Regions from separate parts of the Homo sapiens genome. Here region 2 is linked to region 1. Evidence: fine-mapped expression QTL. Tissue or cell type: fibroblasts. Region 1 holds a variant in brackets; the other region holds the start of a gene. All regions are shown on one strand. Distances are between the middles of the regions.

Region 1 (2,688 bases):
ATTTGATCGTCTGAAGCCTTCTTCTCTCAGCTCATCAAAGTCATTCTCCGTCCAGCTTTGTTCCATTGCTGGTGAGGAACTGAGTTCCTTTGGAGGAGGAGAGGCACTCTGCGTTTTAGAGTTTCCAGTTTTTCTGCTCTGTTTTTTCCCCATCTTTGTGGTTTTATCTACTTTTGGTCTTTGATGATGGTGATGTACAGATGGGTTTCTGGTGTGGATGTCCTTTCTGTTTGTTAGGACAGACAGACAGGACCCTCAGCTGCAGGTCTGTTGGAGTACCTGGCCATGTGAGGTGTCAGTGTGCCCCTGCTGAGGGGTGCCTCCCAGTTAGGCTGCTCGTGGGTCAGGGGTCAGGGACCCACTTGAGGAGGCAGTCTGCCCGTTTTCAGATCTCCAGCTGCGTGCTGGGAGAGCCACTGCTCTCTTCAATGCTGTCAGACAGGGACATTTAAGTCTGCAGAGGTTACTGCTGTCTTTTTGTTTGTCTGTGCCCTGCCCCCAGAGGTGGAGCCTATAGAGGCAGGCAGGCCTCCTTGAGCTGTGGTGGGCTCCACCCAGTTTGAGCTTCCAGGCTGCTTTGTTTACCTAAGCAAGGCTGGGCAATGGCGGGCGCCCCTCCCCCAGCCTGGCTGCCGCCTTGCAGTTTGATCTCAGACTGCTGAGCTAGCAGTCAGCGAGATTCTGTGGGCGTAGGACCCTCCGAGCCATGTGCGGGATATAATCTCCTGGTGCGCCGTTTTTTAAGCCCGTAGGAAAAGCGCAGTATTTGGGTGGGAGTGACCTGATTTTCCAGGTGCCGTCTGTCACCCCTTTGACTAGGAAAGAGAACTCCCTGGCCCCTTGTGCTTCCCAAGTGAGGCAATGTCTCGCCCTGCTTGGGCTCGCGCATGGAGCGCGCACCCACTGACCTGCGCCCACTGTCTGGCACTCCCTAGTGAGATGAACCCGGTACCTCAGATGGAAATGCAGAAATCACCCGTCTTCTGCGTTGCCCATGCTGGGAGCTGTAGACCGGAGCTGTTCCTATTCGGCCATCTTGGCTCCTCTCGATCTTTATTCTTTTGTTGCAAATTCTTATTTTGTTCTTGATTTAAATTATCATACTTGTAAAGAGCACTGAAATCATTCCAACATATGTATATAAACATTTCAAAAAGTATTTATGGGATGTCTAGTATGTATACAAAATGGTATAACATTGGAGGGGGGAGATGAAAAAGAAAAATGAATGAGGAAATGAAAGAACATAAAACAAAATTCACAAAATACGAACTAATATATGAATTAGTTATATATAAAATCAGTTTGTGAATACTGGAAAGATAAAGAAGTCATCAGGCTGGGCACAGTGGCTCATGCCTGTAATCCCAGTGCTTTGGGAGGCCGAGGCGGGCAGATCACGAGGTCAGATCAAGACCATCCTGGCTAACACGGTGAAACCCTGTCTCTACTAAAAATACAAAAAATTAGCCAGGTGTGGTGGCAGGCACCTGTAGTCCCAGC[T/C]GCTCAGGAGGCTGAAGCAGGAGAATGGTGTTAACTCAGGAGGCGGAGCTTGCAGTGAGCGGAGATGGTGCCATTGCACTCCAGCCTGGGTGACAGTGAGAGACTCCGTCTCAAAAGAAAAAAAAAAAAAAGAAGTCATCAGTGAGATAAACAGACTTACTTATGACACATACTTATGAAAGTCATTTGATTCTCTGTCTTTTACTTTAGCTTTTGTGGCTTACTAAAATTCAAATCTTTGTCCAAACTGATTAGTTATCAAATAAATGCAAATTTGAATAACAAGAAGGTATTGTTTTACATATATTAGATGGTAAACATTCAATTAGAATATAAGGTCAATGGAGAATGTGAGTTCTATGAGAGCAGGGATGTTTGTCTATTTTGTTCATTGCTATGTTCCTAGTGCCTAGAACAGAACCAGGGCACACAGTACACAGTCAGCAACTTTTTCTAGAATCAATGAAAAATATGAGTAAACTAAGTATTGCTAGCATGGGTGGAGATGTGGGGCTTTAGAGCCTCACTGCTTTGGGAAGATAAACTATGGCAGCCATGCTGCATACTAATTTAGTACCATTTTATATACACAAAATATATGACCTGGTAATTTTGCTCTTGGGAATGTATACCAAAGACATTCTCAGCATAAGTCTTTAGAGTACGTATACTAGGAAGTTCACTACAGCTTTATTCATGGTGAATAGAGAGTTGGAGTCAAGCCCAGTGTCCATTATTGGGAGAATGAATAGTTAAAATGTGGTGGATGCACTGTATGGAGATGCCACGTAGAAGTTACCAGCTTCAAACTAGATAAATATAAGTGCATGACAGATCTAGTAAATACAGTACTGAGTGAGAAAATTATGCACATGTGTATAAAGTTAAAATTTACATAAAATAAAAATATATACCCACAAAACAATAATACACAGCTTTAAAGAACACTTGCAAACAAAATAATGTAACAGGCATTGTATTGCTTGCCTTTCAGGAGGAAGAGGAGTAGAAGTAAGAAATAAGAATTAAATTAAATCAGTAAAATGAGAAAATGTTTTACTACGTAACAGTGTTAATATAAATTAAACAAATGCTATTTTTAAAACCACAAGAAATAAGATTTAAGAGAGAATACAAGAATTTAATTTAATACTACATCTTGTCTCAAGTGAAATTACTTCCTTT
Region 2 (2,688 bases), 500 kb before region 1:
TCCCTCTTTGGAATGTAAAATTTATCTCTTATATAGAAAGGATATAAATGTAGCACCAGAGACTATAAAACTCTGATACTATCTACTGTACTGTATAGCTGAACGCCACAATGTGTCTGGTAATCTATTGACTATCATAAATGCTATTTCTACAGAAAAGTTAGGAGGTCCATATTTCGGGCAACCAATGTATAGCTGAATGCAGAACAGTCATAGTTGGGTACTAACCATATATATGATTTATCCATCAACAGGTGCATATGCTCAGAAATTCTGTATCCATAAGAAATCAGACTACTTTCTTTTCCTTTTGCAAGTAAATTGAATTTAGCCTGAGAGGCTGAGGGGAAATTTTCACATATAAGCCACGGTTTTGTGTTTTGTGTTTTGTTTTGTTTATAGATATAGTACTAACTGGATGGATGCGATAAAATTCATAGGTGGTACTAAGATACAATAGGATTTGTGAAATGGACAATTGTCTTGCATAAATAGCAAGTAAAAAATCAAGCCTGTCCTTCATAAAAATTTTATTCTGGGGTGTGCTTGTTTTCCAAAAGTACCTCTGCTAAATCTCCTGTTAGTCCTGAAACTAGAAGGCAGAAAAGCTTCTAGTGCTACAGCCAACTGCAGTGTAGCCTGAGAAACAGGCAACAAAAATAGAACACCAGGATTGCTGTGCGTGGGTGAGGCAGAAACCACATTATGAGCAAAAGCTTCCAGTATTATTTTAGAACCAATACAGAGCTCTGTACTTCTCTCCTCTCTCTTCCAAAAACACATACTACAAAAATAAAATGAAATGAAATGTATGTGCATTTGCCCTCTTAGAATTATGATTCTTAATTTTTTTTCTTGCCTTCCTTTCTTTGGAAGCGAATCGCCAGTATGGAAACACAGTGTGTAAAGCAAGCTTCGAGAGAGGAAAGAGTTAATTGGTTTTAAGGCCCTGCGATAGAGAATTATGGTTGGAAAGATAGAGGCTGGACAGCTGGGTTTGCTGGGGTATTTTTAAATGCATTAATGCAGGCTCCAATCACTCGGCCATGCTTGACCTATTTTTGGCTCAGGCCGACCATTGTTCTATTTCTGTGCCTGTGGGCCATGCTGTTGTTGATTCATATGCAAATGGATTATCACTCGCTTTAGCCAACTTGAGCTGAGAGAGACTGAGAAAGGGGGAAGAGAGGCACAGACACAGATAGGAGAAGGGCACCGGCTGGAGCCACTTGCAGGACTGAGGGTTTTTGCAACAAAACCCTAGCAGCCTGAAGAACTCTAAGCCAGGTTTAATTGGTTTCTTTTTCTCGTGGGTAGACTTAATAATTTTCTACGTATTCTGACAAAGAAATAACCCCGAAGCACGTTCCTATTTCCCACCTGCTTGTAGTTTCCGGGATAACCTAAACTCCAGAGAGCTATAGCATCCACTCTGTCCTTTCTGCTTTGCACACAGGTTGGTAACATGGGAAAAGTGTCCAGGTCTTTTTAAAAGTGGATGCCCATTTGAGCAGAAAGGAAATCATTGTCGAAGTTGATCCTCTGCTGCTTCTCCTCAGGGAGGAGGGAGAACCAGCGAGGGTAGCTCCTGGGGCCGGTGCACTGAGCAGTGATGAATGTTTCATGTAGCTGAAGTAAGAGTGACTGGAATATGCTGCAGACAATTTACGAGAGTGACTCCTGTTTTTCCTCAGATGGGGTGGCTGGACGAGAGCAGCTCTTGGCTCAGCAAAGAATGCACAGTATGATCAGCTCAGGTAAGATCCTCTTTCATAACTGAGACGTTTTAGGTTTGAAAGGGGGCTGGCTTGGGAAATGCAGCTAAGAAAAGCACCTCTCTTAAGGAAATTGCTGCTTTTTCGTGTTGATGTTGCTATTTTCTTGGTGCGTCTGTAGGGTTTAACTTAGATCCCTTCCATTACTGTTTCTGTGCATATTCAGTCTGCTTAGGGACAGCAGCTTCTGAATGAAATTGCAAACTATTGCTTCTGATGAAAGATGAGACTGAGATAAGTAAAATGTAGTTGGGGGTGTTTTGCCTTTACTATGCAACTAGAAAAAGGAGCTGTGTACTGATTGTAAGCCTATTCTAATAGGACTTTAAAAATCAGGTAAGTTCATATTGGGGCTTCAGTTTAAACTGCAGCCCCGCTAGCCTGACGATTTTATATTTACTCTGTGCCTACAGAAGCACATCTATTTATAGACCTACCTTCTAAAATGTGTTTGCCACAGAGTTATAAAGGTAGTTTTCTTTTTTCCATTATGTGGCTTTTTCTCATCAGCCCCAAATGAAACTGTTTAGGATGAAATAAAATTGTTATTAGCAGATGCTTATTTTAATTTTCTTCAAAAACATGTGGGAAGTCTAGCATTGTCAGGCAGATGTGATGGCATAACACACATGTAAATGTGTTAAAAGCAGGTGCAGCGTTTTAAAGGATAATAGGAACAGATTCTAATTTCTAGTTTCTCAAGGAGATGAGCTGGTGGGAGATTGAGCTTGTCAGCCTTGTCAATTTATACTTACTAAATGAACATACTCTCCAGGCAGTATCACTTAACGTGTAATTATTGCCTTTCATATTTATTTCCTATGGCTATTTCCTAAAGCTTTGGGAACTCTTTGTTTCTGTCCTCTTCTGAATGTTTCAACCTAAAATTGGCTTAAAGTTCTCACTTAGATCC

What was found. PIP is the estimated chance that this variant, and not a neighbour inherited with it, causes the effect.
Region 2: it holds the start of HDAC9, and the variant in region 1 is fine-mapped to the expression of HDAC9 in fibroblasts (GTEx, PIP above 0.99).

What each region holds. Positions count from the first base shown.
Region 1 is chr7:18,990,022-18,992,709 of GRCh38, forward strand. All of the region lies in intron 25 of HDAC9 (histone deacetylase 9), which reads left to right. Among named protein-coding and RNA genes, the nearest start is that of HDAC9-AS1, 89 kb to the left of the region's middle. RefSeq lists an enhancer at 1-462. The variant T/C (reference allele first, on the strand shown) is at 1,504.
Region 2 is chr7:18,494,568-18,497,255 of GRCh38, forward strand. It overlaps HDAC9 (histone deacetylase 9), which reads left to right and starts at 1,182. Exons shown (of 26, transcript NM_178425.4): 1 at 1,182-1,456; 2 at 1,695-1,757. The coding sequence starts at 1,736. RefSeq lists an enhancer at 911-960.